Linked DNA regions of Homo sapiens: region 2 is linked to region 1. Evidence: fine-mapped expression QTL. Tissue or cell type: whole blood. Region 1 holds a variant in brackets; the other region holds the start of a gene. All regions are shown on one strand. Distances are between the middles of the regions.

Region 1 (2,757 bases):
TTTGTAAACTCTGTATATAAAATCATTAACCACACATTGTGGGTGATGGGAAGACGATTTCAGCTGACAGAGTTAATGGCAACCAATAATGGTGGCCTGTAGCTGCTAAGAGCTTCACGCAGGTTTGGCCTGGGCTTTCACTGTTGGTGAATTTAGAGTGTCCTTTTAGGTGGGGCGGCTATTCTAAAAGTGTCTTTCTATCACTGTTAAGGGGGGGGGAAAGTGAGGTTCGAGGATGACGTAGGTAACTCTCCCCTCCCAAGTCCATGTTCCAAGTGGCTATGTAAAGCAAGATGATACAGAAAGCTGCTCTAAAATCTCACTGAGTGATTTCACCTTCGCCTACTATGAAATGTCTCATCAGACCTGACATGTCTGAGATAACCAAGGTGATTCAGGATTTGATCAAAAGAAGTCTAGTAAGAATTAATTACACAGAAGCCTCCTTTCATTTCTATGGGCCAAACAAAGGCCATGGATAACCCTACCCGCTTTATGTCATTACCCATTGGGAAACACAATGGCTACTTCTGTTAGGGTACATTGACCTTGGTCAAGCATCTTAAAGAAGGCAACCCTAATTGAGAGCTGTCTTGGCTAATACTCTGCACCACAATTGTGATGTCCTAGTCCTACCACTAGAGGGCATGGTACAGCCTGGCAAAAGTTAAAAGGGGTGTGGCAGCTCCCATCAGGTCTGGAGGTGGTCTATAAGCACAGTTGACAGTTGTGCATTGGGATGGGTGGAGAAAGACGACAAGAGAGCAGAGAATCTGCTGATGTGGCTGCGCTTACTTTTAGTGACTTTATGTACTTATATTAACAGCTGGAAATAGGTTGTTGGGTTTTGAGCAGGCTGTTATAGTGAGGAATGTTCATTTTTAAATGTTCCTAACAGATTTTGCTTTTGAAAAATGCTTGTTACATGAATAATTTGTGGACCAGGGATTGCTTTTCTGAAGGCAGTATAGGGAACATGAATATTCAAGATGAAATACAAAAATTATGTTTAAGGGTCATAGTGTATAAGTAGCTTCCTAGGAAACCCTTTGTGTATCTTTTCAGACTGGGGTGGGGGCTGAGCATGCTTGTGCAGAAAGAAGCCATAGCCAGAAAGGACAGAATCTCTCCCCCACTCCCTTGCCCCATAACCAAACATAAGCTAGCTAGTCTTGTCTAATAGATGGGATTTACTATAGGTGAAGATAGCCCTCATATTCAAGGACAGAAGCTCTGGCAGGAGTAAATTAGCAAAGCAGAAATAGTACCCTTTCATTCTTGGAGGTGCTTTGAAATTTTAGGTAGAATATAATCGAAATTATGGAGGTTCCTTAGTGCTCAATAATATAAGACCTGGTGTTATTAGAACGAGTCTTTCTTATAAACTAACAGAGCAGGTATATGCCTGTTAGACCTTAGCTGTGGGGTTCCTTTACTATTGGGTGAATCATTAGGTATAAAAAATAATCATCAACCAGGCAAATTACTTTGCTTCCTAGCTGATGTCATCCCACATTGGTACAGGTGTTATTCAGTACTGGGTGGTTCAGCAGGGAAGCCGGGTGGGACCAGTGTGTCTGTCATGAAACCACTAACTGCATTCCTGACTGAAGAGCCATCTGTCATTTATTGGGGAAGGTCTTCAGTTGAGCTCTCAGCCTTAG[G/T]AAGGAAGCACGTGGAGGAGGGACGGAGGAGGTTCCCTTGCTGGGCATGCTTCGTAGAGGGCCAGGAGCAGCAGGTCATGTGCACATGCCGTTGCAGCACAAGCTTATGCTTCCCGTAGCCGTGGCTTTTCATTCTGCACAGTCCCAGGTCCCAGCTCCCCTCTTATGGTTTCTGTCATAATGTGCTTTATCTGATTGACTCCAAACATCCCGAAATGTCACCTGCAGATTTCTCGTGGGAACCAATATGTACATGTTTGCAATTATGCTGTGAGAATTTAAATGTGTTAGATGGAAAATGCTATTGGCAGGGAATAATAATAAAAAAAAAAGAAAATCATTCTGTTTCCTGCAGTGGGAACTGGCCATGTAGTCTTAACAGTCTTTTGTACAAATATCTACAAAGCAGATAATATCCCTATCCAGTGCTTGCCCTTGGAATTGTCTCTAAATGCATCAAGCATACAATAAAAAAAACTGAAATTAACATCCAGTGGAGTGGCCTCTTCTGTTTTGTGTCTCGTGAATAAACGTGGGCCTCAGTCGCAATATAGAAAATGTATGAGAATGGATATATTTTTCTGGCTAGAATCTTTAGAAAACAGTCAGTTCAGCAGTTTCTTGCATCATGTAATGTTCTGTGGATAAATTCAGTCTTTAAATATAAAACCACAACGAAATATCACCTCACACCCGTCAGGATAGCTACTATTGAAAACAAAAACAACAACAACAACAAAAAACCACAACCAGAAAATAACAAATGTGGGTGAGGATGTGGAGAAATTGGAACCCTTATGTACTGTTGGTGGGAATGTAAAACAGTGCATCCATTGTGGGAAACAGTATGGAGTTGCTCAAAAAATGAAAAACAGAACTGCTGTATAATCGGGCAATCCCACTTCTGGGTATACACAAAAGAATTGAAAGTAGGGTCTGGAAGAGAGGTTGCACACCCATGTTCATAGTAGCACTATTCACAGTGCTAAAATCTGGAAGCAACTCAAATATCCACAGATGGAAGAATGGAGAAACAAAATGTGTTCTATCCATACAATGGAATATTATTCATCCTTAAAAAGTGGAAGCAGAT
Region 2 (2,609 bases), 69 kb before region 1:
TCTCTCCCCAGCACCCAGTCTCCCAGTTCTGCTCCCTGGTGGCATCTATTACAGGTTCTTACGTACTCTTCCAAAGATACTCTGTGCATTTACAAAAATAAGTACAGACATACATATATATTTTCTTCCCACAAATAACACACACAACGTTCTGCACCTAGCTTTTTATTTTTCTTTAGTTAGTATAGGTTGGAAATAGTTTTGTATTAGCAAATAAAGATCATTCTCCTTTTTAAAGGAAGCTGGATAGTAGAGGCAGGCGGATTGCCTAAGCTCAGGAGTTTGAGACCGGCCTGGGCAACATGGTGAAACCCCATCTCTACTAAAAATCAAAAAAAATTAGCGAGGCTGGTGGCGTGGGTCTGTAGTCTCAGCCACTTGGGAGGCTGAGGCACGAGAATCGCTTGAACCCGGGAGGCGGGAGGCGGGAGGCGGGAGGCAGGAGGCGGAGTTTGCAGTGAGCCGAGATCCTGCCACTGCATTCCAGACTGGGCGACAAAGCAAGACTCAAAATGTTTTGATTTTTGTTAATCTGGCTGGTGGAAGATGCTACCCCACATATTTGATTTGCAGTTAAGTGAGCCTGAATATCTTTTCGTGTGCCAGGATAGAATTGCATTTATTTTCCTCTGAATTACGTCTTCATATCTTTTGAGATAGTCTTTTCTTATTTACTTATAAAAGATGGAGTTGACGCTGGCATCAACACACACACACACACACACACACAGACACACAACACACAAGTCCCTGTACATAACTTTATTAACCCAGATATGGAATCTTGGCTTAGTTACGTGCTGTGTGACCTTGGGCAAGTTACTTAACCTCTCTAGGCCACAATGTCCAAGTACCTGGGACAGGGTCTGGCTTACCAACATGGTACAGGACGGCACTTTTAAAACCAGGGACTCGACTTGGACGTGCGAGTCAACAAGGTACAGGACACATTTCTCTCCGGGGAAATCTTGTGTGGGCGCCGAGGCCCGGACGTAGCAACCAAACGTCGGGAAGAGGCGCCAAAAGGATGCTGGGCCTGGCTCCTTGAAGCCCGGGTTTTCCCTTTTGAGAGCCACAACCAAGAAATAAAAATCTAGCAAAGAGGGGGCCACTTTCTGCGGCGAGATACGCCCTCTCGGCCGCTCCTCCAGCTCCCAGGCCCCCTCCCTACTCGACGGTGAGCAGCGCCGCGGCCCGTGCAGCCAGACGCGCGGGGTGCGGCGGGGCCCCGGGGGCCGGGGTGGGGGAGGCGGAGGGTGGGCCCGCGGTCACGTGAGTCGGGCCAGCTGCTGCGGGGGGCGGCGGGCCCCAGCGCCGGGAGTCTGGGTAGGGGGAAGCGCCCGGCGGCCGCCTCCGCCACTGCAGCTGCAGCCCCCGAGGTCGCCGCAGTAATCCGGACCCGGCAGCACCCGCACCCTCGGCGGCCGCAGCCTCAGCACCGCAGAGCGGAGAGCGGAGCCCGGAGCCCGCCGCCCCAGGTGAGCCGCGTCTGGGAGCGCAGGGCGTTTGCAGCGCTGCTTTCCCGGCGGTTTCACCCCACCCGCCATCGCCACCTCCTGCGTTTCATCTCCTCCCGCTGTCCCTCCGAACCCGCGGGTAGCGTTACCCCAGGCCGATTCCCGGTGCTGGCCCGGGCGGGCTGGGAGCCTGGGGGCGGTCAGAGGAGAGGTGGCCTCGGCCTGAAGCCGGGGTGACTCGGCTCGGGGACTGCGGGGGTGCAGTGGAGGGATGCCGGCCCCGGGCTCCCGCACCGCAGCCGGGTTCCCCGCGCTGCTCTTCCTGGGTTTCCTTTTCCTGGCAGCCAACCTGCTGCCCACTGGGATGTGCCTGTGGGCCCCTGGCCTCGCCACCCTGGGGTCTGGGGCGAGCCGGGCACCTTCCCCGAGGTGCCGTACCTGCTGCGCGGGCGGGCGCCGCGAACATGGCTGCCCGGAGACGCCCGCCGCCTTCGGCCCGGCTCTGCCAGCGCGTCCAACTCGCCCGCGGCCGCCGCACCGTGTCCCGGAGCAGCCCTCCCCGCTAGGCCGACGCGCGCGGGCCGCCCCTGGGTTCTCCGCGGGCCGCGCGTGGGACTTGACACAACTTCCCTCGAGCCGCACCCGGGCGTTCTCCGCGGGGCGCCGGGCGGGGCTGCCGAGAGGCCGGCTTGGTCGGCCTCTGCCTCCTCGGCTCGCTCTTGAGGCGTCGAGTATTTGGCGACCTCACTCGCGAGGGCCGAGAGAAATGTGGTCTGCAAAGCAGGAGGGGCGCTTGAACTTTAGAGAATTGGCGAGAACTCGGATTTGGGAATAAAAATGTCCATGAAAACATCGAAGGAAACTGTTACCTGCTTTGACTCAAAGCTGACCTTGTAGGGTTCTGTTAAATAACGTGGCTTTTCTGGATTTTCTGTCTGATTCTAGCATGCAAGTCCTTGACTTACGCTTGCGTCCGGCAGCCGGGTGGGGTGGGTGCGTGCGTGTGTGTGTGCGCGTGTGCGCGTGTTGTGTTCCCAGCCTGGTTAGAAGATGCATCAGTTGCGGAGGAAACCTATGCTAATTCAAAATGGCAGCATGAAAAATAGGCCAGGCGGAAGCAGCACAGACCACAACCATCAGCTGCCCCCTGAC

What was found. PIP is the estimated chance that this variant, and not a neighbour inherited with it, causes the effect.
Region 2: SCRN1 starts here. The variant in region 1 is fine-mapped to the expression of SCRN1 in whole blood (INTERVAL, PIP 0.97).

What each region holds. Positions count from the first base shown.
Region 1 is chr7:29,919,503-29,922,259 of GRCh38, reverse strand. It overlaps SCRN1 (secernin 1), which reads left to right. Exons shown (of 8, transcript NM_014766.5): 8 at 1-2,151. Among named protein-coding and RNA genes, the nearest start is that of FKBP14-AS1, 68 kb to the left of the region's middle. The variant G/T (reference allele first, on the strand shown) is at 1,665.
Region 2 is chr7:29,988,511-29,991,119 of GRCh38, reverse strand. It overlaps SCRN1 (secernin 1), which reads left to right and starts at 1,319. Exons shown (of 8, transcript NM_014766.5): 1 at 1,319-1,478. FKBP14-AS1 (FKBP14 antisense RNA 1) reads right to left here and starts at 2,464. Exons shown (of 3, transcript NR_187577.1): 1 at 2,327-2,464. RefSeq lists silencers at 1,193-1,532, 1,553-1,602, 1,613-1,882, 1,973-2,092.